2 separate regions of the Homo sapiens genome follow, and region 1 is linked to region 2. The links come from fine-mapping of genetic effects on gene expression. A gene starts in region 2. The other region holds a variant in brackets. All regions are shown on one strand. Distances are from middle to middle.

Region 1 (16,014 bases), 21 kb before region 2:
AGGTGAGCCCCCTAAGCCCAGCTGCTGGTTGCAGGGGTCTAAGGAGGCCGTGGGGAGGTGGGGGCTCTGCCCCCAGGCCAGCACCCTATGAGCAGCCCCGCCCTGCCCGATGCTTCCCCAGTTGCCCTGGGGGCTGGGCTGGCTGCCCGGGGCTGCCGCTTTGGAGTCCTTGCTACCAGCGGGCCGGGGGCCTGAGGCCACTTCAGGGCCAGGTTGGGTCTGAGCACAAGCCCAGGAGAGGGTTGGGATGGAGGCCTGTCCTGTCGCCCCCATGCAGCTCCTCGGGTGCTCCAGGGAGCATCTGCTGGCACGCGTCCCCCCTGCATTGGCATCCCCCCTAGAAGCCACCCATGCGCCCTCCCACACCTGTGGACAGAGGGGCCTGTGGTGAGGCTGTGGCTATAGCGGCTGCCAGGCCTGTGGAGTGGCCTTTCCGCAGCCAGCCCCGGAGCCCTCCTGAGCCCACAGGCCCTGGGCCACACTGCAAAGTGGGAGTCGGAGCCCAAGGCTTAGCTCAGCTTCCCCCTCATGTGGAGCTGGACTTCATGCTGACCCCTGGGGTCACCAGGAGGCCCCTGCTGGGGCAGCACCGAGCCTCCCTCATTCTTTTGAGCCTTGAGATCCCACAGTTGCAGCCCAGGGCCTGCCAGCCTCAGGCCGGCCCAGCAGAACCTAGGGGAACCGCCCGGAGGGTCTTGGCCCCCAAGTAGGGAGAAGGCTCAACACTCACCTACCTGGATGGTGTTTCCCTTCCTCCAGGGCAGGGCAGGGCCTCCGATGCCTGCTGCCGCTGTAGGACCCTCTCCCAGTGCCAGTGGACACCCGGGGGCAGAAGGAGGAGGAGGAGGAGGAGCAGTGGGAGAGAACAGGAAGGGCAGGGTGGAAGCAGGAGAGCAAGATGGAGTGGGGGAGGGAGGAGACTGCCCTGCCCCTCCTTGCCGATGCCCCTGCCAAAGCCGCTACCTCCCAGGGAGAGTGAGTCAGGGCTGGGACACCCCGCCAGAGCCCTGGCAAGCTCCAGGGTGGGCAGTCCACCTGGACAGGTAGGGTTGGGGTGGTCCGGCTGGGCCTACGGGAGGCTGTGGGGAGGGGCTGGGGAAGGCCGAGGGGACAGAGGACCATCTGACCATGGCCAGCTTGGAGCCCCCCAGGACCCACGCATTGGCCTGGAGGAGGACTCTACAGGGACTCCTGCCCCGGGGCAAGGGGTCTCCCCAGGAGCTGGGACTTCCCTGCAGGCCCTCCTGTTAGGGAATCGGGCCCTCCACCAGGGCAGGGGGCACAGGCACAGGGCAGGCCAGTCACGGCAAGACTGGCCATCGGGGTCTCAGGCGGGTTCCCGGGACCAGCTGTGGGGCAACGAGGGCTCTGGAGGCAGGCTGCCTGATACAGTAGGATGTCTGGGGGGTCTCCAAGAGACTGAGAAAGGGGCAAGGGGAAGAGGTTCCCTCAGAGCGGGGAGGGAGGCTGAGGGCTGGAAGGCCCATACACCCGGGCCCCGTGACAGAGGCAGAAGGACAAGGTTTGGCTGGTTTTCCATGGCTCATGGCTGTGCCCAAGCAGTGGGCAGGCTGGAGGGGCGGGGGCCGGGCAGGCTTCCCGGCACATCCCTCATTTCCCCTCAAAGAACTGGCACAAAACTGAGACCTCTCCCGAGGAAGGGGCAGGCTCCGTGTCTGAGCCCACAGGAGGCAGCAAGGGGCCCATGAAGTCAGAGGGAGCCAGGGGAGCCTGGGGGGAAGGATAGGATCCCCTGGAGCTGGCCTGATGAGTATCCCCATTTTATGGACACAAAAGCTAAGGCCGAGAGAGAGGCTCTGATTTCTCCCAAGTCACTCAGCCTGACTTGGAACTCAGCTTTGGCGCCTCCAGGCCCCGCCTGAGCTCTCAGCTGTGCTCCTCAGCCACAGGGCTCCAGCCATGTCTCTGGGCCTGTGAGAGCCTGAATGCCCAAGACTGGGGGTGGCAGTTTGGGAGGTCCTGGCAGTATAGGCTCAGCTGTCCTCCCAAAGCCTGGCCCCTGCCTTCTCCCCACCACCTCACACCAAGCCCCTCCCTCCTGCCAGAACATGCACACACACACACGTACACACATACACACACAAACACACACACAGATGCACACATACACGCTCACATACACACACGTGCACACGCACACACCTATACAAAACACATATGTACACACGTGCACACACACATGCACACACCTATACAAAACACATATGTACACACATCCACATGCATCCACATACATGCACACATCCACACATATACGTGCACACACCTATACACACATGTACACACATATACATGCACACACCTAGACACTCACACATGCATACCCATGTATACACATTCACATACACATATGATACACATATACACACATATATACACAGATGCACACACACTCATGCACACATCTATACACATACATGCACATGTACATCCACATGCGCACATGCATGCATGTATACACACATGCACACATGCACACATACACACATGCACACACATGCACACACACGCACACATACACATTTATACACACGTACACACACACACACATGCATACATGCACACATACATACATACATACCTGCACATATACACCTGTATACACGCATACACATATGTACACACATACATGCACACATCTATACACACATGCATACACACATTCACATATACATATGTATACATATACACATACATACACATATATCCACACATAGATAAGGCAGGCGGGGACCCCAGCCCAGGAAGCAGGAATACCCCATAGTCAGATCCTGTGAGACCCACAGCAAGTCCCTCCAGTCCTCAACTCTCCACCACCACAACTGAGGCCTCTGGGCCTCAGTTTCCCTTCATTGGCCTCTCTGGGTGTGTCTTCAGGGACTTCAGGGAGGGTTTCAAGCCCCACCAAAGTGTGCCCTGAGCTCCCTGGATACCATCTCTTTAGAGCAAAGGACAGGGGCGGCAATGGCATAAGCCCCAGGTTTGGCGACCGCAGGTGTGAGTGAGGGAGGAGGCTGGGCTTCCTGGAGCCTCCGCCACCACCCCAATAGGGCCCTCCTTGTCTGCCCCTCTGAAAGCTAGCGCAGTCCTCTGCACTGGATTGCTCGAGGTCACAGCCAAACAAGATGCGTTGGCAGCCTCTGAGAACATGGAGGGTCCGTGCCAGGCATTCAGGCCAGGCCAAGGGCGGCGGGAGCAGGGCTTGAGGTCTGGCGGGCCCTGGGAGCTCGCCTGCAGATGGTGTGGCTCACAGCTGCCAAGTGGCAGACGCCGGATGCTGTCTCCGCAGCCTCAGCCCTGGGCGTCTGCCCCCCTGAGCAACCCGACCTGAACTCTGACACATGTGCCACCTTCCACGCAGCCCTGCGGGGTCCCCGGGACTGTGTCCTTCCTCCCCTCCCCTCTGGCCTCCAAAGCCTTTTGGGCCCAGTTTCAACCAGCAGCCTGGTGCTTGTGCCCCCGCTGACACCCGGCCTGCCCCCTGCCACTCTCCCAGGCCCCAGTCCACCAGTCCCTCCCCGCCGATGGCTCCAGCCTGTACTTGGGCATCAACCAGAGAGGGGATGTGTACCCTCCCTGGCCTTGCCAAAGCCCGGCGTGTGCGTTCATCTGTGGGAGTGGCTGCCTGAGGGGCTGGGGGCTGGAGTGGGGAGGGGTGGACCTTGTGCCACATTCCAAGCCCCTGCCGTTGCCGGAGCATGCCCTTCAGGCAGCCACGCTTGGGCGTCTGCTCCCCTTGCAGCCACGTGTGGAGGGGCTGGGAAACCCCGGCTCATCTGCTGCTCAAATCCTTTCCAGAGGTTTTCTGGCAGGGTGGCGACAAGGGTGGAGTTCTCCCTTGATGCGCCCAGCCACCTCCCACCTCTCTGTGCCAGCCCTTTGCAGCCTGTGGCGCCCATGTCAAGGTCCAGCCTGTCCCCACAGTCGGCGGAGTGCGGGACTCAGCCCTTCCCACTGTGCGCTCCTGGTCCTCTGCACACGGACTACTGCTGCCCCCTCCCACTCTCCGAAGAGATCCGGGGCCTCCTGCTAGAGTCTCCAAGGAAAAGGGAGGATGCTGTCACCTCTCAGAGGCAGAGCAGGGGACTCATGTGATTTCTTTACTTAGCATCCTGCCGTCCCCCGTTGACTATAAGAAGGAAGCAATGCTCTTAGAACTTGATGAAGGGGTAAACTGAGGCTCAGGAAGTTGGCCCCAAACTCTTGCCCAAGGCCACACGGTGAGGAAACAGCAGAGCTGGGGCTGCACACACTGTCTGTCTGTCCGTCTGTGTCCTTGCCCCCATGTCTGGACCCACCCTCTCCCAATGCACACAGTGCCACAGGCCCCAAAGCTGACACGCTTCACACTCTCGGGGCTGTGCAGGGGGCTCCCCTGGAAGCATGGCCCTTCTGAGGACCATCAGTAGCTCCCTATGGCCCACAGATCCAGAAGCCCCTCCTCAGCCCCAACACAGCCAGCAGGGCAGCCCCCGCCCAGCCTCTCACCTCTGCCTCTGTCTGCAGGGAGTCTCCTGGAAAAGCCATCGTCTCCCCAGGCGAGCACTTCAGGGCCCCAGGGAAGGTGTTCCCGGCCTGCCCCCCAGAGCCTGGGGCCCTGCCTCCCTCCCTCCCTGGTACAGGCCCACCAAGGCCAGGAGGGGAGGGGAAGGTTTCCTGCAGCCCCTCCCTGCCGCAACCCGCTCTCTGCCGGGGGCTCAGGCTGGGCTGGGATTAGCCTCCTTCAGCCAGCCAGGGTGGCCCACAGCCTGCTTAGCTTCAGGCTCCTGGGACTGCTGGGCTCCCATGGGTGTGTGTCTCTTTGCATGAGGGCAGCCTCCAAGAACCATGGGATGGCAGTCAAGGCCAAGCAGGGACTCAGACTTCCAGAGGATAGAAGTCACACTGGCTTCCCAGACTTCCCCTGCCTCCAGGGACAGGGCTGCCTTCTAATCTTCTGGCCACCCAGGAGTCTGCCCGCCATGCTCCCCTTGGCCCATCTGAACACCTCAGGGACCAAACAGGACTGGGATGGCCAGCAGAGGCAAGTTCAAGAGGCCCACAGAGTCCGTTGGGCCCCTGGTCCTCCAGCTTATCTCAGGCCAGTGTTTAAGTGGAGCTCAGGCTTAAGATGCAGTGGACCAGGAGAGTTCCATGCAAGAAGGCTGGCTAGAGCCCCAGGCCCCTAAGCCTCAGAGATGAGCCTCATGGGAATGGGCAGCACCTTCACCAGGCCTGCCAGGGAGCCGGGACCTGACCCTGCCCCTTGGGCTGGCTGGGATCAGAGCTGCGCAGGTGGGAAGCTGGGAGTGGGAGGGTTCTGCAGTCCTCGGAAGAGCCAAGGCTGGTGGCCCCTCCATAGCCACCCCAGAGGCTGCTCTGACCTAGAGCCATGACGGGGCAGGGGAAGAAGGCAAACAGCGAAACAGCGAAGGGGGCAGCTGGGATGGTTCCCAGGAGTCTAGAGTCCCAGAAGGGGCTTCTGGCTGTGGGATTCAAGTGGTGGAGGGGATCTTCTGGCCTGGAAGGGGACCTGGGGAAGGAGGAATGAAGCACAGGCCCCACCCCTCCAGAGGAGGTGGCCCCAGGCCTTCCCCAGGGAACCCTGGGAAGCTGGTTCTTTCTGGAAGGCTGCAGAAGGGCCTGGCCATGGGTCCTGGAGGCCACTTAGGCTAGGCGGGCCTCAGGCCAGGAGGACTGAGCCATGCGCCCTCCCCACAGCGCAGCCCCTCTGCACACACCCCACAGCTGGTCCCTCTAAGACTTGCGGAAAGGGCTCTGAGTGGCCGAGCTGTGGCCCCTGATCTCCCAACCCAGCATCTGAGCAGAAGAGGACAGGAGCTGGGGCACTGATCGCCCCAGGCCCGGTCGGCAGGGTGGGGGCCAGGGCCGGCAGGATCCCGGGTTGCGCTGCCTTCCGAGGGAGCCGGTGCCCACCCAGCGGCCTGCAGCCCAAGGCAGGGTGCCCTGGGAAAGCCACCGCCACCCCCAGCCCCTCGGTGTGAGCAAGACCCCCAGCTGGTGGGTCCCCACCCACCAGTGGGGCTCCCAGGCCTGTCGGGGGCTCGGTGGTGGGCCTGGATGCTAGGGGGGCAACGTGCGGCAGGGACCAAGCTCTCCGGCCCACAGATGAGTGGGAGGGGGTCGTGGTGGGCATGGGAAGACATTTCCGACAAGCAGGGGTGTTGGGGGGTGAGCAAGGCAGGGGAGGGGCCCTGGCAGGTGGGGTGCCAGGGACCCCAGGGCTGGGGCTAGGCCTGTGGGTGGGGCGTGTGCTGGGGATTCTGTGGGCCGAGGACATGTGACTCCCGGGCAGGCTGGAGATGCTGGGGGGTGGGGGGTGGGGGGTGGGCCCGGGAAGCACAGGAGACGGCAGGTGGGGAGGTCCTCATCCCACCTCTATACGGGGTGGCAAGGACTCAGAAGCCCTTGCTGAAGGCTCTGAGTGCTAACTGTCAAGTGTGAACTCATTACAAACCCCTCCTCTGGGGACTTGGCGCTGTCACTGGAAGGGACACGCTATAGCTTTGTTTGAGTGACTCTGGAATGTTGCTAAAGACAGGAAACTCATTCTTGCCTTGGAAACACCCCCCTTCCTTTCCCAGACTCCCCATCTATGCGTTGGTAGGGTTAATGCCCACTGCCGTACGGGTCCTTGGGGCTTGAAGGTGGGCCAGGGAGGCCAGGGCTGCCACCCACAGCTGGCCAGCTTGCCATGGGAGCCCTCTCTGCTCCCTGGCTCGCAACCTGCTCCCACCGCCCAGCCCTGGTGGCTTGGAGGCAGCCCTGCATCTTCCTTTCAATATACCCACACGGGCTTGCCCTCAAAGGCTCACCATGCTGGCCCACAGTGGCCATACATGGGCATGCTCCGCACCAAGACATCCATGCTCATACACCAGCTCTCCTGGGGTGCGGCTGGCACCGGCGGCTGGGTGTCACCAGGAGGTGCTCACCCGCACCCCTGGGCGCTGGTCCCCGGGAGCCTTTCTGGCACGGGGGCAGGGGGGCTGAGCATCTCCAGCTTGTCTCAGTTCCAATTAGTTGCTATAGGGCAGAGAGCTGGCAGGCCAGGGAGGGGCGAGGGCCCAGAAACAGGACCCCCTGAGGATGGGACCTGAGCAGTCTGGCAGCCAGGACAGCAGGAGAGAGGCCTGCCCACCAAGACAGACCACTGGAGACTGATGTACCCTGTGCCCTGCAGATCCCTGGGCCCCCTGCTCTGCTCAGCAGGCGCTCAGGCACCCAGCCCCGCCCATGGAGCAGTGAGGGGGCGCTCCCCTCCGTGGGCCTTCCAGGGCACTCTCTCGCTCCCTCTCCTGGGTCCCTTGGCAGGCCCCTCTGGGACCCCAAGCCAGGTCCGCCCTGGGGAGCATGGCACAGTTGCCTGATTTTCTCTCCTTCCCCTCCACACCCATTCTGAGTCCCAGTCCAAGGGGGTCCTGGAAACAGACAGGGCTGAGCCACCCAGGCACCCCCAGTCAGGGCCCTTGCAGCCAGGGCTCCCAGGACCCAGACTTCTCACAGAGGATGTAGAGGCAGAGCATTAACCTGGGGGTGAGCGAGCGAGGAACATCTGGGCAGGGTGCCTGGGGTGTGCCTGGGAAACTAAGTCTTTCAGCCCATGCCAAGGACTGGCCTCAGGCAGTGCAGCGGAGGACTGCTCCTGGGTGCTGAGCTCGGTGGGCGCTGGGCGGTCCTCCCCGATCCGACCCAACCCGGGCCAGGCGCCAAGCCCTGGAGCAAGGAGGCGCCTGGGCAGAGCGAGGCTGAGGGAGTGGAGCATGCGCCTGGGACTTGCAATGATGAAACAGGGCCATTGGCAAAGCTGGGGTACCAGTCACCCAGCCACGCTCTAGGGTGGTAGCCAAGAAGACGGACCCCGAG[C/T]GGGAGGCAGAGAGACAAGAGGTGGATGAAGCAGAGCAAGGTCAGAAGGGAGAGGGAGAGGAAGGGGTGAGGGAAAGGTGCCTGGAGGGCGGCGAGACGAGGCAGAAGCCTGACAGGGACCAAGGGGGCCGCAGGGTGGCGATGAAGGGGCGTGGATCAGCAGCCTACAGAGAGCACCGGGGAAATCTGTGGACACCCTCGCGGCACTGGGGACAGCAGGACCAGGGCTTGGGACAGCGGAGGCAGCAGAGCCAGGGGCATCTCTGGGTTGCTGAGGAGGCAGCTTGAAGCCAGCCCTACCTGGAGAGGGGAGGCGCCAGGCGCAGGCTGACTAGTTGGCGGGCTGGGGTGGTGGGCCGTCCGCACGTCTATCTGTCCGGTGTGTCCGGCGGACCGAAAGCAGCTACTCACTCCTGGGCAGTTTGTGGAGAGAGGGAGACAGAGGCGGCGGGCGGGAGGCTAAAGGCTGGGCAGGCGGGCCGACGGGGAGGGGACAGCGGGGAGAGGGCGGGGAGGGAGGAAAGGAGGGAGGGGGCTGGTGGGGCGGAGAGGGCGGGCGAGCAGGAGGGGGCAGGCTTCCCGGCCCCCCTGGCAGCTTCAAAGGGAGCAATTTTCTTGTAGACGGCTGGACTAGCTGAGCCCCCGCCCCCTCGCCCCCACCACCTCCCCCCCCCTCCCCCGCCTGGGGCAGACAGCAAAGGAACGGACACACTCGCACTCACTCAAACAAGGACCCAGAGAGTCAAACTTTCCACTGCCCAGATGGGGACACTGAGGTGCTGGCTGGCATCTCGCCAGGCAGAGGAAAGAGAGATGGAAGAAAGACGAGGGGGAGGCGGCCTTGGGCTGCTAGGCCCATGAGTGGCCCCTGGAATTTGGTCCTGAGCCTGCCAGGAACCTGCTTGGGCCTAAGCAAGGAGGTGGTTTCTCCAGGATCAGAGAGGTAGCTGTTGTGGATTTCTGGAAGGACTTCATGTAGGCTCCTGGCGCCCTGTGCCCTCCCTTCCACTCCAGACTTTCTTCCCTTAAAAAGAGGGCCCGATCCGGCTGGTGGTGGCAGGACGGGGCAGGGGGCTCCCCAGCTTGCCTGCCCTGAACTGATTCAGAGACGAAGGATCCAGCGAGTCAGTCTTCTTGCTCAATCCCTGCAGGTCCCCTCGGACATGAGAACCACTCTGTGGGTGGCCACTTCCTCTGGGCTCAGCCCTGTGCTGGTCACTTACGGGGGCTAACCGGGTTACCCCACCAAGACTCAGCCGCTTCCTGAGGGCCCAAATGAGTCCAGTTCCTCCAGTGGCTAGAGCCCAGGTCCTTAGTACGACACTGCCCCCCTGTCCCGTAGTGTCCCCTTCTTCCCTCAGCAAGAGCAGCTCCTGAGACACAGGGGTAAGAGTTTAGATGGAGTGAGAAACAGATCTGCAATAGAACTGGGGGCCAAGAGTGCGGAAGACCAAAAGAGAAAATTGCATATTGAGAGAAAAAGCTCGAAGGGGCAGAGAGGGAGAGAGGGGTGGCTAGAGAGAGGCGGCATCCAATGGAGAGAGGACAACGTCGAGGGCTGAGGGTCTTCAACCCCTGGCAGTGCCATCACTCAACCGGGGGGTGGGGTCTGGGAGGTCCCAGGCCAGGGAGGATGCTCCCAGGGGAGCTCTACCTGGGGGCATGGCAGGGCACAGACCCCCTTCCTGTTCACCAGCGGCAGCCCAGGGCCTGGCTAGGACCTGGGACGCATGGCACCTTGACCAAACTGTGGTACCTGCCTGCAAGAAGCTTCTAGACTGGGCCAGGGAGAAGAGAGACGTGGGAAACCAGGGGCCAGGCTGGTAACCCTGGTTCTCTCTTGATTTCATGGTTGGAATGAGGAGATTGGAGACCACATATGCCCTTTCCAGACAAAGGAGATGGCTTGTCTTTCGGCAGGTTTGTGTGTTTTACCTTTTGCCCAGCCTCAGCGTCCGACTCTTGGCAGCCTGGTCTCATCTCTGTCCCACCCTCTTTCCCTCCCCCACTGCCAACTCATTCGTGGAGAAATATGTCGGTAGAGAGCGGGACAGGCAGCGAAGCCTGACTAGCAGTCTGGGTGGAGAGAGAAGCATTTGGAAACATTCCGCTCAGTGACAGCAGCCAGTCGCAAAAGGCCGCAGAGCCTCTGGTTCCATTCATTTGAAATGTCCACACTAGGCTCATCTGTGGGGACAGAAAGCGGATTTGTGGGCAGTGGGTGCTAGAGGGGTGGTACCTAAAGGTATGGGTTTTCTTTTTGAGGTGATGAAAATGTTCTACAATCGACTGAGTGATGGTTGCACAGTTCTGTGAATAGACCATATAAAAGCCCTTGCCTTGTACGTGCTCAATGCGCAAATCGTGTGGTAAGCACAGCCACTCTCAGTAAAGCCGTTTCAGAAAAAAGGAGAAACCCACTCAAGGCATGCCTGCTGCCCGAGGTGCTGGTACCCAGTACCTTCCTGCACTGCTTGGGGACTGAGAACCCAGGAGCTGTCACTCAGGGCCTCAGCCTCCAGGAGTCCCAGTGGGGGTGAAACAGCTCTGAATACCGTGGGGGCGCAGGGCCATGCACAGTGCCAGAGGCTCGGGAGGGCTACCTGGAGGAGGTGACCTGGAGCAGACCAGTAGGGAAGAGGGAAGTTGCCGGTGGAAGGAAGAGCACACGTGCGGGGGGGTGTGGGGAGACACAGGGGAGCCAGGCGGCGCTGCAGTCCGGCCCTGCACCGACCTCACCCTCAGGTCTCAGCCAGGCATGTTCCTGGATGGGGGCTTGGAAGTGGCGATGAGGCGACACCCTGCTTGGGGGAGACACATTATGCATGCACCTTGCAGCTCTTACCTGAAGTTGGGGGCTGCTTCTGGGGGCAATACTCATATAAATACGGTCCTTGTACCTGGAAGGTTTTTGTATCTGTGGTTTGCAGTCTGCAATAAGCCATAACTGCACGCCCGGCCCGGGGCCCACCGAGTCACTCGGCCTGGCTAGGGCCCACTGAGTCACTCGGCCTGGCCCTCTAATTTGGGGGCCACTCCCAGACCAGACAGGCAGTACCTCAGTCCTAGGGCCTCCCCCTTCTGCTCCCCCTCCCACTCCCCCCTCCTCAGGCCTGGGCTCTCTCTGCAGCGCAGAAGGTACTTTGATCCCAGCTGAAGTGCTCTAGGAACAGTGCTTCCTTGCTAGCGAGCAGAGCTGGCGGGCGGGCAGCCTTCTGCCCTTCTGGCCTCTCAGGGCTGGGAGGAGGCAGGGGGAAGCAGGGGGAAGGCAGGCACGGGGGGCGCAAGGCAGGAAGGAAGAGCAGGCATTTCCTGAGGCCCTCAGGGATCCTGGGGAGGAGGCGGACACACAGCTGTCTTAGCTCCCCAGGAACCCGCGGCAGACAGGGAGCAGGAGGTGGGGGAAGCAGAACCCGGCCCCTTCCAGCACGGCCTGTATGTGACCCTGGGATGCCACTGCACAGGCCCCCTAGGCCCTAGCTGGGATGCTTCCCCCAAAAGGCTGTAGAGGGCCAGAAGGTCCTGCTGGCACCAGCCTTGCCTTGCATCCCAGCCCGGGAGACCCCTTCTCCTGCCGGATGGAGCCGAGAGCTCAGCTCTCTCCACCTGACAAGGAGCCCAACCCCCTCAGCTGCGTGGGGAGGGCAGCCCTGGGCAGCCTGCTCAGGCTTCCCTGCAGGGAAAGCTGTCCTGCCCTGGCAGTTGCCCCTGCACAGGGCCCCAGGCCACACTGTGGTCTCCCTGCTCTGAGCCTAACTCTGGTCTAGGCCTCATCAGGCAGCTGCCACCCCAGCCTGCCTGGGACAGCGCCCAGGACGGCTGCTGGAAGGTAGCAGGTGGGGCGGCAGCCATGGGACGGAAGGATGGGACAAGGACATGTCTGAGGGAGGGAGAGGGCCACGGAAGAAGGGGGCTGGGAGGAGGGGAGGCAGGGCGCAGGGATCTAAGCCAGCTGCCATCTCCTTGGCCAGTGTGGGGAAGAGGACCTGGAGTCAGCTGCAGCCTGTCCCCCACAGCTGGCTTGCAGCTGTTTGTGCCCTGTCTTCAAAGCTACAGCAGGGAGGCCCAGGAGAGAAGCAGGGTGGGGGCGCCCAGAGGGCAGGCTGTGAGCTCTCTGGTCCCATTTGGGCATGAAATACTGGCGGGTGGTGTGAGTCCTAGAGGGCAGAGCCTAGGAGCCTGGGAGGTGGCCTCTTATGCAGGGGTCCCCTACAGAGGTGGGCTGCTTGTTCCATGATTCTCCAGGGTCTGGAAACAAGAACTGGGCCCCGGGCTCCCTCTGCCCTGCTCCCCAAGTGTGTCCAGTGGGCCCTCTTCTCTGTGGGTGGCTGCTTCTCGAACCCTTCTGCCTGGACACGAACCTCCCCACCCTTCCATTCTGATGGTGTGAACAGAAGGGCCCATGCCTGTCTTGGGGATGGGACGGAGAGACAGAGGGAGAGCCGACAGAGCTGGGACAGAGAGCTGCAGTGGGCGAGGCAGACAGGCAGCACTCCCACCCCCTGGACCATCAGCAAGACCCTCAAGAAGCAAGGAGGTGACAAGTGCTATGTGCCCGTACAAGACTGGGGGGCAGGGAGAGCTTCTAGAGGAGGAGGCAGTGCCCTGAGGCCGCCTGTCATTGGGGAGTAGCTCTTGCAGAGCCTCAGCTTCCAGGGCAAATTCCCATCCAGGGACCTGTCACTCACACATCGAGGTTACCTCTTGAGCAAGAGCGGCCCCAAGTTTATGGCCTTGAGTGGGCCTCACTCCGAGCCTGTGGGCTTCGTCCATTCCCAGTGTCGGCACCCTCGGGGGCAGACACCAGTGGGCAACCCCATCACCACTCAAGGGTCTCTGGATGACCTGCGGCCTCGAAGCGGCATGAAGCTCATGCTCAGCGGGGACCTCTGGGTTCAGGGGGTGGGGCGGTTATGGAGGAGGCTTGTGCCAACATGCCCTGGGGCAGCTGAGCTGGTGCTGAGTGAGCGGAGCCTCCACTCTCTGGAAGCTTCCCAGTGCTGGATGGCCGAGGTGTGGCTGGTGAAAGCTGGCACTCTCCATGCCAGGAGCTTTTTTTGACCTTCCTCTGAGGACATAATCACACAGCATCTCTCCCCTCCGGGCCACCAGGGCTGTAATTTCAGGGCCTGCGTGGGGGCTCCGGGGAGGCCTGGCCTGCGTCTAGCTATCTTTAGAGAGGCATGGTCTGGGGCGTGGCCAGAGGATGGAAGATGGGTTGCCTTGGAAGCCGAAGTCCGGGAGCCAGAGGCCAGGGGCACCCTAGGACCCCTGTGGTCTTCCCTCAGGGAGGCCAGAGGCCAGAGCCCAGGAGCAGCACCAGGAGGCTCTGGTGGGAGTGGGAAGGGGCTGGGCCCTGTCCCGAGCCCTGACTTCAGCTCGGAGCAATCTTTGGCCCAGATGCTCAGAAGATGGGGTGGGATAGCACCTGGCCTGAGGGCCAGACAGCTTAGCATCTCCCAGACTGTCCCCGTGTGGCCATGGTGGCAGCTATTATGGGGGTAGGGGGTGGAGGGTGGCACAGTAGGCGAGATGCTTGTGAACGGGGGTGTTAGGCTGGAGGGAGGGCTCAGAACAGAATGTGGCGAAGGCGAGGGGTGGGCCCGTGGGGGGCCAGTGAGGGGCAGTTGGAGAAGAATTTGGAAGCTGATGGGCAGTTTTCTGGGACTGCAGCTGGCAGAGGCGGAGCAGAGGTGCAAGGTCCCACCCAGGTCTCAGGCCGGAGACACAGGCCCAGCCCCAGGGAGGGCACGGCTCCTTGCCCCCATTCTCCACCCTTCTGAATTGTGAGCTGTCCCCACTGTCCTTACTCTCAGTCCCACCCCATCACCTCAGCATCCCCATCCCCATCTGAGGACTGATGAGTGCCTCCCTTCTGACCCTAGTCACACCTATCCTGTTGCCATCACTATTGCAATTGTCACTGCAATGTCCCCTCAGATGCCCAGCATTTTGGGGTCACCGATTGGCTGCACCCACTGCTGTACCCTCAGATGGAGCCAGCAGCCACCCCGAAGAGGAGGAGCACAGTAATCACAGAGAAGGTGGGAGTGAGTGGGTGTCGGAGCGTGGCCCGTGCTGAAGGAGGGGCAGGTGCAGGGCCACGGCTGGGCTGCCCTTGCTCTCGGGCTGGGGCTCTGTCTAGAGATTCCCTCGTGGTGCCAGCTAGACTCTGACCAGCCCTCCCACAGCCCCAAGAAGTGAAGTCCCCAGCCCTGAGCTCCTGGCCCTCTGGGGAATCCCCTGGGCTGGAAACAGCACCCTTGTCCCAGTCATGAGGGGGAAATAAAGGCCCAGTCCCTTTGCCCCATCTCGGAGTGCAGGTTGGCTGAGGCCTGGCCGGGCCTGTGGGGTCGGCTGCAGCCCAGCTTCTCCCTTGGCCAGGTGACGACCCCAAGAGCCCGCAGGTACATTTCCCAAGTGCGAGTCCCCTGCCTCCCCAGTTGGGAAGGTCACAGGAGGATTAGCCCCCGCCGAGGCTCTGAGAAGTGGAATTAACCACCTGTGGGTGGCCTGCCTGGCCCCTGCCCTCCTGCAGCTGAGGGGCCCCTCCCCTTCTCCTCCCCACCTGCCTCATCTGTCGGGCAGTGGTAAGAAGTGGGCAGGAGATGTCGGGGACTCACCCAGCCTGCACTTCCTGTGCCTCCCGGGCCTGACCTCTGGGACTGCGAGAAGGTGGGGGCTGCAGGGTGACCTGAGCAAGAGGCGCAGGGACCGGGGCGGCCAGGCAGGGAGGAGGGGTCGTGAGAGCTGGGAGAGTGGGGCCAGCGCCTCGTGGGCTGCTGACCTCTGACCCAGCCCAAACAGGAAGTGCCATATCTGAGGGGCCAGCTGGAGGAGAAGGAATGCCGGGACGAGTCCAAAGCAAACAGCCCACAGCTTCCCAGGCCTCTCCCGCCCCCGCCACAGTCTGGCGCTTTCTCCACTGAGAACTCAGGGGTGGGGGCAGGGGTAGGGGGAATCGGCCATGGAATGGGAGCAAGGCGAGACTCAGTTCCCAGGCCCCGGTCCTAGGCAGAGCTGATGGCGGGGCGAGGTCCTTGCAGCGGACACCCTGTGCCCTTCCTCCTCTGCTCCACCCACATCCAGCAGCCCGGAGGCAGAGGGGAAGGAGAGGGGCGGCCCCGCCAGGGTAGAGAAAGGCCGGGGAATGGGAAGGCCGTGCCCAGATCGAGATGGGGGTGCTGAGGTGATGGGGTGGGATAGCGAGGGCCAGAGGGGCATGCTGGAGGCTCACAAGTTAGAGGGACAGAGGACAGGGACGGAGCCATGCGCTCCTTGGGGCTGGGCTGTGTCTCTGCTGGGCCCTCTCCTGCGGCATCCTTCATGCCTGTCACCTGGCTGTCTCTGTGAGCCCCATCCCAGGGCAGTGGCTGTCGTGTTCCCTGCGGTTGTGACCCTTTGTCCCTATCCCTTCCTGGCACAGGGCCTGGTGGCCTAGAGAGCTGTGGAGGCTGTCCCAGGAAACCCATCCGGTTCCCAGGGGCCCCCTCACTCAGGCAGGCCAACGGGGCAATGGCCTCAGTGGCCTTCGAGGGCTCCGCAGACCCAGTGTCTCCACCAGCATATCTGGCCAGTCTGTCTTCAGGGCTCGGCAGGGCTGAGTTGTCACTTCCCAGGGACTCCTGGCACATGGGGAGGTCAACATGGAGGGCCGGCCTCGCTCAGGCAGACAGTCAGAAACTCTGGCCAGGGGTGGTCCTTGCCCAGTGCTCAGGGCGGGGCTTGGCTTTGCACAGACCACGTGCTCACTCCCCACCCTTCCCTGGCACCAGGTCAGATAGGGGCACAGCCTGGTCTCACAGCAAGCCAGCCATACATCTCTGGGCAAGTTACTCATCTGTGAGCTGAGGGTGGGGCCCTGGGGACCTCTCTTGCAGGTGGGTGTGCATGTTGGGGGCTGGGATGAGGGTTCTGGGGCCAGGAATGGGGGGGAGGTGTCAAGGGAGAGGCAAAGGGGCTTCCCGAGAGGTGCCACTGTGCGGTGGTCACCAGCCCCTGCCCCAGGCCTCAGTGCAGGTGTGGGTGGCTCTAGGACCAATGGCAGGTGCCCTGAACCTCCACACCCTCCTGCTCTGCCAGCCAAGCCCACCTCTTTGGGTCCAGGCCCAGGATAGGGATGAGACG
Region 2 (14,398 bases):
TCACCTTTGGGGGGCCTCCTGGGTTTCAGGCCCCTTCCCTTGTCTTCCCGGCCTCCTGTCCTCTGGCCCTGGTCCTCCTCGGTGACTGCTGCCCCCTCTTGAGCTTGAGGGTCCCTGCCGGCCTGCCAGGGCCTCAGCTTCAAGGCCTCGGGCTTCCCTGCCCCAGCCCTCATGGCAGCTGTGGCCTGGGGCTGAGCCCACTCAGCGACCAGGCCCTTGTTGTGACCCTGCTCCTGCTCCAAGGTCACTGGGGGTGACTCCTTCCTCAGGGCCAGCCCTGGCCTGGGAAGCGCTTTCCAGCCAGTGGAGGGGGACTGGGTGGGGGTTCCTTGAGCTCCCTGCTTCGGGGTGGGCTGATCCCGCAACTGGTCCAGCTTCCCAGCCTCAGGCTTGTCTGGGTGGCCGATGCCAGGGATGGGCTGCAGCTGACCTGCGGAAGGAGCCAGTGTGGGCTGGGGGCCTTGCCTCCTTTCCCCAAGGGGCTGTCAGCTGCTAGAAAGCCCATCGCCCTTCCTCTTTACCCAGGCCTCCCCCCGCCCCGCCTTTCCCTTACCTCCTGAGGAGCACTGGCGAGAGAACAGAGTGTCCCCACCGTCAGCAGCAGGCCACCAGCCCCTGGGGCCAGTAACCCAGAGTACCTCTCAGAACTTACACAGCTCCTCACTGCTGGGGAGGGGGGTGGGTGGCGCTCTAGGCCCATTAGGGCTAAGGGGCTGGGCCTATAGGTTAGGCCCAGGGGTTGGACCGGTGGTTGGGCCCAGGGAGCTTCAGCAGCCCTGGGTAGAAAGCCTTGGGCTGCTCAAGGGACCTTGGGTCCCACCTCCCCTCACTTCCCCAGTGTGTCCCAAGGGTGGGGGGTAGGGCGTTTCCCCAGCATCCCCTTTGCCCCATACCCATTAGTGAGCAAGGACTTCACACGTGCTTCCTAGGGACAGCTTCTGGGGAGATGAAGGGGTCGCTGCGACCTGGCACAATTTGCTTTTAGAAGTGAAAGCCCCAGTGTCTGCTACAGGGGGTTTGTTGGGGATTAGGCAAGCCCAGGGGCCACCTCAAGGGGTCTGTGAGCCACTTTGGAGGAATGTTGATAACCCCAATGCCTCCTGTCCTCTATGGAGCAGCTCCTCCTTAACCAGGGCCAACCATGGGGGGCACCGCTCTGTCTGCAGGGGTGAGGGGCAGACCCACCCACCTGGCCCCTCCCGCCCTACCCCCAAGCCTGGGGCAGGGCCACCAAGTGTGGCTACAACCACTGGCCTATAAGACAAAGGCCACACTCATAGCCCATGTCCTCGGGCCCCTCAAGCCCCTCTCTGCCAGCAACCCCACTTCACCCCCAAGCCCTATACTCCCAGCCACCTGAGATTCTTCCTGTCTCAGGAGGCACTGGGGCAGCCAGAGCAACTCCTCCCCAGCACACCCCAGCCCGCTCTCAGCCTCACTGTAGCGCCCGCTCCTAGGAAGGCCTCTTCCCTCCCTCGCCCCTAGAGTCTGCGCACACCCCTCGCCCTCCAGGGAGGGCTCTCTCAGGGCCATGGGCCCTTTGCAGCCCTGCCTGAGTACCCAAAGTGGGCCTGAGGTGGACAGCCTGCGGCAGTCTTCTTCCTGCTGGTGCCAGCTACTCACCGTCGGGGGCCCCTGGTGGGCTGGGCAGCAGCTGCAGGGTAGCCAAGCCCATGGGGGTTGGTGGGGCCCCTCCTGAGCAGCTCCCCGCCCACAGTGCCAGGATGGGGAGCAGCACACTCCTCTTGGCTGCCATGGAGGGAAGGAGAGCTGGGAGAGGCACGGTGGTGGCCACGGCAGGACGATGGCGGACGGCACAAGTTGGTCTTGCTCCCTGAGCTCCTGGCCCTGGCTGCGGCACTTGGAGTCTTCCCTGCCCACCCCAGCCCTTCCCTGGGAAGGCCCCCCTTCTGTCGAGCAAACGCCTCCCCCGACCTTGCCCCCAACTCCCCACAACGTGCACTGCTCCCACCTGAAGAGAAAGACAGATTGCCCTTTCCTCAGACCGGACGGTCCTGCCCTTTTGCTGTGAGGCCCGCATTGATTCTCCGCTGGCTCTGGCCCAGTGGCCTCCATGAATGGGGCTTCTGTCTCACACGTGGCAGGCCTGAGAGGCCCACCACAGAGCGGGTCGGCCACCGCAGGCTGCTGGGCCCTGCATCCATGGCTGCGAAAGGAGAGGGGGTGGGTGCCAAGGCCGTGGGCTTCTGCCGTGGGCAGCACTGTGGAGGCCTCCGGGTTCCAGAGGAAATAGAATCTGTGGGCACAGTGCAGGCGGCGAGGGTATGCCTCCCGTGCCTGAGACCCCAGTGCTGCTTGGGCATGGGTGTGCCTCGGGCTGGGCTGGCTCCTGGTTCCTCTGCTTGCCCTCCAGGTCTCTACCTTCTCCTCTGTAAAATGGGGTAGGGGGCAGAGTTGACGTTCTGTGGCTGTCCCGACCCCCTACATAGGAGCATGGGTGTTCCAGGCACTGCCTGGGTGAAGCCATGTCACAGGTCCCCCCCAGACTTCTTGGCCAACAGTCTGGGATCTCTGATGTGCCTAGGCTGCACGCATCCTTTTGGTCAGAGGGGCACCTGTGGGTCAGGATGACATGAGGTGGAAAATAGGCTGGGCTCGATGAGGGGACTGCTGGGTGGGGCCAGAGGGGCGTGTGGTGGAGTGAGGGGCAAATAAGGGGGTGTCTGGCTCCAGTTCCTAGAGCCCGCCACCCTCAGAGGGCTGCCGGAAGTCCCTGCTCCAACTGGGGTGTCCCTGCAGCCCCAACCCCGCGTTCTGCTGTGGGAGCCAGGGTTTGTGGGAGCAGGCAGGCGGGGGCTGGCAGAGAGGACTGATCTCACCGCTGGCTCGGCTCTTCAGGGCCAGTATTGAGGAAGCTTTTCCTACAGCCCTGTCCAGCGTTGACTTAGGTTTGGAAGCGATCTTAAGAAATGAGTTAATTGTGGGCAAGGCTTGGGTGGAGGGGAGAAGGGAAGCAGTGGAGGAGGGGCAGGGGCCGGCAAGGGCCATCAGGCAGGAGTCTCCATCCTGGGGCAATGAGGCAATGTGTGAGATCCAGAGGGGTGCAGGGCTGGTCAAGGTGGGGAGGAGGCCTGGCAACTGGGTCTTCACTGGGCTCCTTGAGGAGCTGCCGCTCCAGCTAACAGTCCCGTAGGAGCCACATGGGGTCCTCTGCTATATCCAGGGTACCCTCGCCATCCAGGGCTCTGGTTTCTGACCTGAATTTGGACCCTGCCACGTACAGACCAGAAACAGGGACCATCTAGGGAGTCAGCAAATGCCTCTGGAGTCAGGGATGAGGCCACCATCTCCTTGTGCGTCCTGTGGGTGACACAGGATGGCTGTGGGCCAGTGTCCTGCCTGGGGGCAGCTGCCGAAGCTGGGACAGGGTAGCACTGGGGCACGGCAGACTTGAAGTATGCTGCCAAGACTAAGTGAAGCTTGCCCCAGGATCCTGCAAGACAGAGCACAGTCGACCCCCCATTTTACAGAGAAGGAACAGAGAAGGAGTGGGGCTCACCCAAGTCTCGATACCAGAGGCCAGTCCTCCTGCCTCCTGGTCCAGGCATCGCCTGAGAAACGGGGTAGGTCCCTGCCTGAGCTGAGCCTAGCACCTGGGGTCGGGAGACTGGACGGTGATGGGAACCCCGGCTCCGCCCCTCCCCCTGCCTGGGGATGGATTCTGGAATCCTGGCCCCCTACCCATTTCCCCTGTTTGCGCCGCTCCCCAGGCGCTGACTAAACATCCTGCCATCTGGTTCCCATTAGCTGGGCTGGGGGTGGGGGAAGCCTGCTCCCAGGTTTCTCTGGCACAGCCAGCCTGGAGGAGGGAGGGACTCCGCTCCTACCCACCTAGGCAGGAAGGGGTGAGGCCTGGGGTGCTCTCAGTTCCCAGCTCCCATGGAGGCCTGGCCTCGCTGCCCTTCCCCTGGTCGGGAGCCTGGTGGCTGACCTGGGTGGGCCCCTGGGGAGTGGTACTCCTGCTGCCCACTCTGTCCAGTCCCAGGGCACCCGGCCATTGTGGGGACCTTGAAGGAACCCCCATGGAGCAGAGCCAGCCTTCAGGGGCTCAGCAGAGCCAGAGGCTCCCGGCAAGTTTCTGCCTTGCCCTCCCCCCCGCCCAAGAGCTCACTGACGGACTTGTGCTGAGACAGGCAGGCCCCAAGCCAACAGTAATCCCGAGCCCGGTGTCTGGAGCAGAGGGTGGGAGGGCTGTTGGGATTTTCCAGGAACCAGGGATGCAGCCCGAGGGTTGCTGGAAAGAGCTTTGGGCTCCCAGTTCTGCCATGGACGGACTGGCCATGTGACATCAGGAACAAGCTTCCCTCCCTCCTCAGTGCCCCAGTCTTCTCATTTCAGTATGGTGGAAACAGGCTCCTTAGAAAGTTCTAGAATCTGAGAGCCAGAAGGCGCCTAGAGAAGCTGGATTACATGATCAAGGTCGCTTCTAGTTGTACAATCCCAGGATTCTAAGGTCAAGGAAGGGACTCCTGTCCCTTGTCCTCCTCCCCCTTCCCTTCCATGTAGCCCACTCTTCACACACTCATGCACACACATACCCTCTACAAGCTGGGACTCAGATTGGTAGCCTGGAGGATGCCAAAGCAATGCTGTTTGTCCCTCAAGGCTGTCATCAACGAGGACTGGACAGTGGATTCTTTGCTCACTGACAGGGGATCAGGTGAGGACCGTGAGAAAGTGACATTTGGGCAGAGGCATGAGTGAAGAGGCCATGGCCATGCAAAAAGCCACAGAAAGAGCCCTCCGAAAAAGAGGGATGGCCAGTGCAGAGGCCCCAGGTGAGAAAGGGTTGGGCCCAATTTGAGCATTGGCAATGACAGCAATGTGGTGGAGCAGGCTGAGTGAGCCGTGGGAAGGTGTCTGTGGCGGTGGGCTGGCTTGCCTTTGTCCTTGAAAGAATCAGGGAGCCACCTTGGACTGCTAAGCAGAGGAGTCACAGGATCCGGCCCCCCTCAGGCTGTGGGGTGGAGCACGAGCAGATGTACTGGGGGCATAAGGGTAGGAGGTGGGAGCCACCGTGTGGCAGCTGAGCCCGCCAGGGGCCAGGTGATAGTGGCTGGCCAAGGGTGGAGGCGGGGTTGCGAGGAGGAGCGGGTGGGGTCAGGAGCATTTGGGCCTCAGGGTCAAGGTCTGGGGGCTGTTCCTGCTCTCCTGCTCTCCTGCTCTCTGCAGGAGCACCTACTACGTGCCTGTCCTTTTCCCAGGGCCCAGGGCAGCCAGAGACACAGCCTTGGGGTGACCCCCAGAGAAAAGGAACAGGCCCATTCTTGAGCTTTCCACATGTTGTCTGAGTGAAAACGACAGCAGTGTGTGGCACATGGGTGGCATTCTCTGGGGACATGCGCCTGCAGCTATCTTATATGTCAGTAACAATATGGGGCCTTTCCCCCTTAAAGCTTGGAGAAGAAAAAAGCCCCATTTTCCATGCCCTCTTCCTGTTGCCCGCAACTCTTCCCTAGAGGAAACCCATCTTATTTTAATGCTACTGAAACCTCAGAGGATCTGGTCCCAATTAAATGACTTTTCTTGCAGACGCTTTGGTGAGCACTAAATGCTTGAGACCTGGTGATCCTGAGCGAGAGAGCCTGCTGCGGGGTGGGGGTGGAGAAGAAAAAGGAGGGAAGGGGAACACAGGACCCCAAATGGGACAAGGGTGGCTGCGGATGGGGTGGAGGGTGCCAGTGGAGGGGGACTGCAGAGGGTGGCACGCAGCAGGGACCAGCCCATAGGGAGCAGGGCCGTGGTCGGGATGGGGGCAGAATAGGGGCCAGTTTCCCACCCTCTTTGCCCGTGTGAAATTCGAGTTCATTCCCGCCCATAGCGTGGCTTCGCTGGACTCCGTGTGAAAGCGGCCCCGCCCCATCCCCTCCGGTGGGCTTCGAGGACCTCGGCAGGGAACGGAGGTTGGGCAGAAGCTGGAGCTCAGGCCCGGCCGGGGAGCTCGGGCAAAGCAAGAAGGCGAGGCGGGCGCCCCCTCCCCCGGCCGGCCCTCCGAGCGGGCACGTTCGTGTTCCCGTCCTGGCGCCCTCGCTTCCCGCTCCAGACGCATGTGACTCAGCCCCGCCGGCCTTGCCAAGCCGTCTAGACCCGAGCGTCTCCCCGCGGAGGGGGCGATCCCGCCCGCCGCCGTTTCCTTTGCCGCCGCCTGCGCGGCTGCGCCCCGCGCACGTGCAGCAGCGCTCGCCCCCGCCCGCCACCTCCCGCGAGCCGCGTGCACGCGCAGCCACTCGCCCATCCCGCGCCAGCGCCCGCGCCCCCGCCCCCGCCCCCGCCCCCGCCCCCGCCTCTCCCGTTGCGTCCACTGCAAACAGGCAGTTCGAGGGCAGAAGCGGGAAACCCAAAGGTCCCCAGGGCCCCAGACCATCCCTCCCATTTTTGGGGCCCGGGGCAGGAGGACAAAGATGGACCGCTGAGCCACTGCCTCCCTGCCAGCCAGACTCTGTCCACACCCCCTACAACTGCCTCTGGCCTCAGAGCAAGGGTCGCCCTAGGTCGCAGGCCCTGCCCTCTTGCAGGAGCCTGTGGCCTGGGGGACAGGGCGGGGTAGGTGATGGTAGCACCTCCAGGCCCACTGGAGGCGATGGTGATGGCGATGGTGGTACCATGCTGACTGCGCTGCGGAATGTGCTCTTGCAGGAGCTGGTGGCCTGGGGGCAGGATGGGGCAGGTGAGGGCCCCTCAACTGCAGGAGGTGAGGGTGGGGCCCTAAAGCAGGAGGCCCAGCATAGGGACTAGAAGTGACAGGAAGAGGAAGCCAAGGTCCCAAGGCAGCCTCTCCATTCTCATATGCCAGTAGACTCCAAAGATGAACACGGAGGCCTAGGAGGAGAACGTTGTAGAGTTGAGTCTTCAGGCAGCTCCCAGGTTGACAGTGTGGTCCCTCCAGAGTTAGGGCCACAGGCCGCAGGGCTCCCCCAAGCTTACAGCCACTTCCTTGTCTCATTTGCAAGGCCCCCACCCCTGCTTTCGTGTTCTCCATCCCTTCCCCCATCTGCAAGGATAGGGCTGGGTTTCGGGTGGGCTCCTGGCTGGTGCAGATGGCGTGGGCTGCCCGCAAGACCTGGGTACTGAGCCTGCATGCCAGGATGCAGGGTGGATGGGTGACCAACAGCTCAGCCTGGCAGCTTAGCAGCAGAGAGGTCCCAGGAAGACAGGGAGGAGATGAGGAGAAGGAAGAGGGAGAGGAGGACAGGACGGGGAGGGAGGGGAGGGGAGGCAGAGGCAGCCCCCTGGCTTTGCCTTGCCTGCGGAGAGCCTCACACTCAGACCGTCCTGAGCCTGACCTCATTACTCTGTCACATTTCTCCCTCAAACCCAATGCCAGGGCTCACCACTTGCTTCTCGCATGGGTGTGATCAGCTTCTCATCTTAGACCTGAACTCTCCCCAAAACACACACACGCACACACACGCACACACTTGCCTTGTCTTCAACAGCTTGCATTTGGTACTCTCCACCCTTACTGAGGAACTTTAGTGGCCAGGGGTGGGGGGTGATGGAGGACACTTCAGTCCCTCAAAGGCTCCTCCCCAGGTTCCCTGGTTCAGGGCCGGGAGTCGAAGTGGCCCCGTGGAGCAAGGCCTTCTAGGGCTTTAGCTCTGACAGCATTCTAGGGCCTAGGCGCCCCCAGGTGGGGTGGCTCCCCCTCAGGTCTAACTCCAGCCCCTGCCAGAAGCAGACCCGCCTCTGCAGAGAGGAAAGCCCTTGGACTTCAGCTTCCTTTGATTCGCGGTGTCTTTGGGGGATTGGGGGGTCCCTGGTTGATTCCCGCTGCACCGTGGGGTCTGCCCTTAAGGTCATATGAAGAGCAGGGCCCGGATGCTCTGAGGACTTTTTCAATACCCTCCACAGGTCAGGGAGGCTGCCCACTTGGTGAGCTCAACTGTTTGGCCATATATCTCTGGGCCCACCACACAAACTGAGAGGTCTCGAATGCCACCAGCACCCGCCAGCCCATCTCTGGCACAGCGGGGCCAGTGCCGTGAACCAGTCTCATTTTCCAACGTGTTTTCCAAGCACTGACACGGCTGAGGCCCTGCTGGGACGCATGGCCAACTTTCCTCCATGACCAGGACCCCCCAGCTTCCCCGCCACATCCACAGCTTCCCCCCAACATCCCTCCTCCAGGTCAATGGGTCCTTCAGCCACATTTTTGGCTCCTGACCCACCCAGGCCTCCCTCAGAGAACCTGGGGTCTCTGGGTTGGAATGTCCCTTAGAGATGTGCCCCCTCCCTCCCCCATGGTAGGACTCAACCCTCCACATCCCCGCCCACCCACCTCCCTGGGCTTGTAGACCTTCTAGGACCGGGAGCTCCCTTCCTCTCCTGGCAGCCAGCTGGTGTTCAGACAGTGATTTCTGGGAGGAGTGCTTTCTTGGACTGAGCTTGAGTCCACATTTCCAGAAGCTTCTACCTCTGGGCCCCTTCTTTCCCCCTTCCTGAGAGGCCCAGCAGCCTCTCTGTTCCCTCCCCAGCCTCCAGCTTTTCCGGAGGAAGATGCCTGGGAGGTGCTATGATTCTGGGGGCGGGTGGTGGGTGGCAGGTGGTGGGTGGTGGGTGGTGGGTGGTGGGGTGGCGTGGGCAGGGAAGCTGCAGCCTGCTGCTGGGTCTTCAGCGACCATCTCCAGGGGCTGAGGGCTGGCCAACAGGTTCTCCATGAGGGGGATGGCCTCCATAACCTCTCAAGATGATCTTCGCCTCTCAAGGCCCTGCCAGTTCCTCAGGGTCCCATAGACTGAACTGCTGAGGTTGGGGAGGCCTGTTGAGCACACTGGCTCCGTGGAGCTGGGTGGAGGAGGGAGATTTTCTTCCAGAGTACACAGGAGCTGGTTTCTTCCCGGTCCTCAGGAGCAGAGAATATGGGGAGGGTTGGGGGAGGCTGCCACACTGCCGTGGTTTCTTCCGCCAAATTCCCCAGTCCTAGGAAAGATCCACAGAAAAACCCACAAGAATTTGAATGTCTGAGCTGGGGCTGTGATTGAGATGAAATTTTCTAAAAAGAAAGAAAGAAAAACAAAAACAAAAAAGAGGGAAAAAAACGCTTAAAAAAAAATCCCAAAGCCTTTGACAGCCCTCAGCTACCAGAAGGGCCTGAGGCAGCAGCCACGTGGAAGGGTAGAGAGCAACCTTGAGGCACTTCGCTGGGCCTGTGTCGGGGCCTCCCAGGCTGAGGTCCCTTCCTGTGACCCCCGGACTCCTGCCCGCTCCCTCCTCCCAGGACGGAGTGAAGTCCCCTCCTGTCACTTGGATGACTGCAGTTGCCTCCCAGCAGGTCCCTGGGTCTCCCTGACTATAGACTTGCCCCCTGATCCCACCCTCCAGGAGATGGCAGGGTAGGGCACAGAGGAGGGCACAGTGGCAGCTGCCTGCTGCTGTCTCCTGGCTACTGGGCACAAGCCACCCTCCAACTCCTTCCTGCCTTGCCCAATCAGCAGGTCCCTGGGTAAGGGGCATTCAGTGAACTGGGGGCTTTGCAGGTCTGGGGGAGGAGCGACTGACATATTTCATTGCAGACGCATTGAGTTTGAGGGTCCTGAGGGATGTAGAAAAATTTGTTAAGTAGACAGGATAGGAAGGAGCCACAGGTAGCCCCAGGAGCCGTGAGGGGAGCAGGGCCCAGCATGTATTACAATAGTGAGCATTTACGTGGTTCTTCGCATGCGCCGGGCACTGTTCTAGGGATTCCACAGGAATTATTACCGCCTGCCATCCTCATTAGCAACCCAGTGGGTAAGGTGCTCTCATTAGCTCCATTAGGTGAGGGCAAAGAGGCACAGAGAGGTTAGGTAACTGGTTCAAAGGCACACAGCTGGTGAGTGACAAGAAATTTCCTTCTAACTACAGCGTGAGCATGGTGAAGAGAAGACGGAGCCCCGCGCTGGGAGAGGAACGCTTCAGTCCGAGTTCCATTCTGCACCCAAGGCTCCCCTTGGTCCTCCTGGGAACCAGGGTGCCCCTTAGTGGTGGTGGCCCAGGAGAACCCGACCAAGGCAGGAGCGCCCCCTCCTGGAAGAGCCTCGCTTCAACGCATCATCATTCCCGGCCGGCAGCAGGGGCGACGCCAGCAAGGCCTGCGACTCAGAGCCAGCTTGGCCCGTTCGCCCCGCCCCTTCCCGGTGTCCGCCCCGCCCCTTTCCCGGTGTCCGCCCCGCCTCCTTCCCGGTGTCCGCCCCGCCCCCTTCCCTGTGTCCGCCCCGCCCCCTTCCCTGTGTCCGCCCTGCCCGCTTCACTGTGGTCCTGCCTCTGGGTGGTGCCGGGGCGGGGGGTGGGAGCCCGGGGCCCGCGCAGGCGGAGATGTCGCCCAATGGGAAGGGTCGGTCGGGAAGGGGGTGGGCGCAGGCGGGTGGGCGGGAAGAACGCTGGAGGTTGATTGGCGGTCTTGCCGGCCAGTGAAGCCAGGGCATGGGCGGGGCGCGGCTCGGAGCGCGAAACATGGCGGGGCAGGACGCTGGCTGCGGCCGTGGCGGCGACGACTACTCAGAGGACGAGGGCGACAGCAGCGTGTCCAGGGCGGCTGTGGAGGTGTTCGGGAAGCTGAAGGTGCTGTTGGCCCAGAAAGCCACTCCAGGGCGGGGGACCGGGGAGGGCCCCGCCCGAGGCCCGGGAGGGCTTGCTGCGGAAGTCCGCGGCGCCACGCGGCCACCGTCGCCGGTTCCGGCTGCGCCCTGTTCCCTTGCAGCAGGGGGTGCTTGTGGATCATTCATCTTTGCCCTTTGGTGTGCCCCAGGCCTTCGTTCTTGCTGTCTCCACGGCCCGTGCCTGGTAGTTGGGGCCAGCACCGCCTGTGGAACTGCAGTACCCGCGCTGGGCGCTCGGAGCAAGTGCAGACACAGAGGACCCAGGCCTGGCCTTAGGGATCTTGCGGGGTCTGGGGGGACAGATGGGCAGAGCCTCGTGCCACTCTGTCAAGTCAGCGAGACTAGGGCTTGGTGTCAGTTGGTGTCAGATGCCAGGGGTGATAGCCTCCAGAAGCCCTCTACAGCCCCACAGGACAGAGCCCTCACTGCAGCAGTGAGGAAAGCTGGCCCACGAGGTTAGGGAGCTGTCCCAGGTCCCCTCGGCCCGCTCGCTCCTCCCCCCAGACACTCCCCCATCCTGTCCGCGACTGGCTCAGTGGTCCCTCTCCCTTTCCCTCTCCCCTTTCCCTCAGTCCCGAAACCTAGGACTCTCTCTTAAGTCTTAGTCTCAGGCGTTGCTCCTAGGTCCTGCTGCCACAAGAGCCCAGAGTGGGAGTACTTGAAAGAGGTGGGGTCTGCATGCCGCGGGAGATGTGGGGTTAAGAATGGGGGGACTTGAACTCTTGGCAAGATGGCAGGACGCGGGTAAAGGAAAGGGTCCTGGGAGCTTGCAGATGTACACTGAGGACTGGGCGCGGCGGCCCACGCCTGTAATCCCACCACTTTGGGAGGCTGAGGTGGGCAGATACCTGAGGTCAGGAGTTTGACACCAGCCTGGCCAACATGGTGAAACTCCGTCTCTATTAAAAATACAAAAATTGTCCGGGCGTGGTGGCGCATGCCTGTAATCCCCCAGCTACCCTGGGAGCTGAGGCAGGAGAATTGCTGGAACCCAGGAGGTGGAGGCTGCAGTGAGCCGAGATCATGCCACTGCACTCCATCCAGGCTGGGCGACAGAGTGAGACTCCGTCTCAAAAATAAATAAATAAATAAAATGAAATGATGTACACTGGGACTTTCAGTGAATGTTGCTTTCCTTTTCCTTGCTTAGGACCTAAACTGCCCCTTCCTCGAGGGTCTGTATATCACAGAGCCAAAGACAATTCAGGAACTGCTGTGCAGCCCCTCAGAGTACCGCTTGGAGATCCTAGAGTGGATGTGTACCCGGTAATGCATCAGTTTCTTCCTCTTCCCACCTGGGGTGTGCATGGGCGCCAGCCAGCCCCACCTGGGGAAGATGGGGTTTGTGGTTACTGTGAGTAGCTGTCTTCCCAGAGGGCTCCACCCCCTAGCCTGGACCCTCGTGAGAACAGCTGTGTAGGTAAGGAGTACTGGTGACAGGCATGATCAAACTTGGGGCAAAGTGGCCCCTGGCGGTGCTGGGCTAGTCCAGCCACCCCTTTGCTGCAGTGCTGAACTTGCCCTCAGCGTTTGCCTTGCCTTATGAGTTTGGAGGTTCAGGACTGGCAGGCACCTGAGAAATGCTCCATTCCAGTCCTTTCCTTCTCAGACCCGGAAGCCAAGGGTCAGGCTGGAGGCATGAACAGTCTCTGGTCTCCCAGTGGAGGAGTGACAGGCAGGGCCAGGGCGTGGGCTCCTGGCTGGGTCTCAGCTGGCCAAGTGGTCCTCATGCAGTGTCACCTCTTGTCAGCTTCTGTGCCGTGACCCGTTTCCCAGTCCTCTGGTGCCTTTGGGCCAGGGTGTAGCATGGTGTGTGCCTGGCACCCTATGAAGCCCATGGTGACAGGGTGACTTCCTGAGTGATGGTGGAGGAAATGATCCAGAGTGTCCCATTCCCAGGGCAGACATCCTTCCCCTGGTGACGTAGTCCCTGAGCTGAGGGTCTGTCTCACTGCCTCACAGCTGTGAGTGGAGAAGGCTTTCCCCGCCTCCCACAGAGCACAGGCTCCTGTGGGATTGGGTGTGTGCCCAGGCCATGCTCAGGAACAGCTGTAGTCTGTTGGTACAGGAGCCTCTCGTGAGTCCAGGCCCGGGCCTCCCCCTCCTCAGCCTGCGGCCTGCCTACCCTTGCTGCTTGAGGAAGGGGCCTGGGCGGGAGCCTGGCAGTAGAGCAGTGGGGAGCCAACCTGCATCCAGCCGGTCTGGCCCGCCAGGACCAGAGACATCAGCAGGACGCCCAGCTGGATACAGGCCCCCAGAGGAAGGAGGAGGCGTTTTTGTGTTTGAGCCCTTGCTGTTCCAGAGGCGTCTCCTGCCTCTGCCTTCTAGGCCCTTCCTCAGGCCTCTCCCCAGGGCTCAGCACAGCAGCTCCTCGCTTCATAACCTTTTGCTCTTGCTCACATTGTTCCCCCTCCTGGAAATGGCCTTCTAGTCTCTGCATGTCGTACGTCCTCCTGTACAGCCCGCAAAGACCCAACTCACACGTCCTGTCTCCTTTTAAAATGTTTCCTGTTCCCAGGGCAGAATGTATTCCGCTTCCCTCTGGATGCCCACAGCCTTTGAGCACACCCTGCCCCTGCTGGAGCCCTCAACCTGTGGGTGCACTCTTGGCCTGCTGTCATTTCCGGCTCTTTAGTATGGGAGCCGCAGCATGGTGTGGCCGTGCAGTCGGGGGGTTCTCCAGGCTGCACCTGTGTGCCATTCCACGCGCTGCAGACGTGACTGGGTGTCCTCAGGAGCTGGGTATTTAGTGGGTACAAGTCCTGGGGTTCAGCAGAAATGATGCACAGCACTGCAGTCTGAGTTGGGTGCTGTGGATGTTGGCAGGGAGGAGGTGGCATTTGATCTGGGATGGGGACGGTAACAGCGGGGTGCTCGTTTGGACAGGAGCAGGGAGTTGAGGTGTGGGAGAGAGAGCTGGGCAGCAGCAGCTGGAATGGCAGCTCAGGGCAGCTCCCTCAGGGCCTTGCATGCTGTGCCAAGGCCTTTGAGCTTTATGTTCTGGGCAGGGCAGGCGTGGAACCTGGGGAGCGACGTGCTGAGATTGGCATTTTGGTAAGGTGACTCAGGGTGCTCTGTGGCAGATGGATTTGGAGGGCAATGGCTGCAGGCAGGGAGACCAATACCCCAGGGAAAGACAGAAGGAGCCCTGCGCTGAGTGGCAGATGGCTTGTCTGGCAGCCACTACTGGCCCTGGAGGGACCAGCCCCTGGCCTGGGAACCTGGGAGGCTGGGAGGTGAGGCAGGACTGGAGATGGCTGGGTGGAGTGTGAGGGTCTTGAGCGAGCTCCCAGGAGGAGGCTCTTGTGGGAGGGGGCGCAGATTTGCCTGACTCAGGTGGAAGCTGGGGGCACTTGGGGAACTGGGGTCATCTGGCCAGAGAGGGACGGGTAGGAGGCCAAAGCCACGCCCCTCAGATGCTTCTACAGGTTGAGTGTCCCATATCCAAAATGTCTGGGGGCCAGAAGTGTTTCAGATTTCGATTTCTTCGGATTTTGGAATATATGCATTATACTGGTCGAGTGTCCCTAATCTGAAAATCCGAAATCTCAAATGCTCCAGTGAGCATCTCCTTTGAGCGTCATATCGGCGATCAGAAAGTTTAGGATTTTGGAGCATTTCAGGTTTTCAGATTAGGGATATTCAACCTGTAGTACTTCTGTAAATACCAGAAACCGAATCCTTTGAAAAAGCTGCCAGGGAGCATACGATGACGTTGTCTGATTTCAGGTTGGCGAGAATTCCTTAGGCCTTTTGAGGGTCCTACAGGAGAATCAGATGGATGGGAGTTTTCCTGTGAA

Alleles and levels. Alleles are on the strand shown, and positions count from the first base shown. SD is a standard deviation of normalised expression in the study named.
For the expression in tibial artery of the gene that starts at base 10,434 in region 2, T is the low allele of the variant in region 1 and C is the other (small effect, 0.38 SD a copy in GTEx).

What was found. PIP is the estimated chance that this variant, and not a neighbour inherited with it, causes the effect.
Region 1: its variant is fine-mapped to the expression of HAUS7 in tibial artery (GTEx, PIP above 0.99).

Annotation. Positions count from the first base shown.
Region 1 is chrX:153,487,287-153,503,300 of GRCh38, reverse strand. BGN (biglycan) reads right to left here and starts at 8,321. Exons shown (of 8, transcript NM_001711.6): 1 at 8,188-8,321. It also overlaps a transcript of HAUS7 not described here. RefSeq lists enhancers at 11,379-11,951, 14,068-14,882. The variant C/T (reference allele first, on the strand shown) is at 7,888.
Region 2 is chrX:153,466,612-153,481,009 of GRCh38, reverse strand. HAUS7 (HAUS augmin like complex subunit 7) reads left to right here and starts at 10,434. Exons shown (of 10, transcript NM_001385482.1): 1 at 10,434-10,560; 2 at 11,749-11,864. The coding sequence starts at 10,453. It also overlaps the pseudogene ECMXP. RefSeq lists enhancers at 3,299-3,799, 3,800-4,300, 9,905-10,199, 10,713-10,812, 10,963-11,142 and 1 more and a silencer at 10,073-10,382.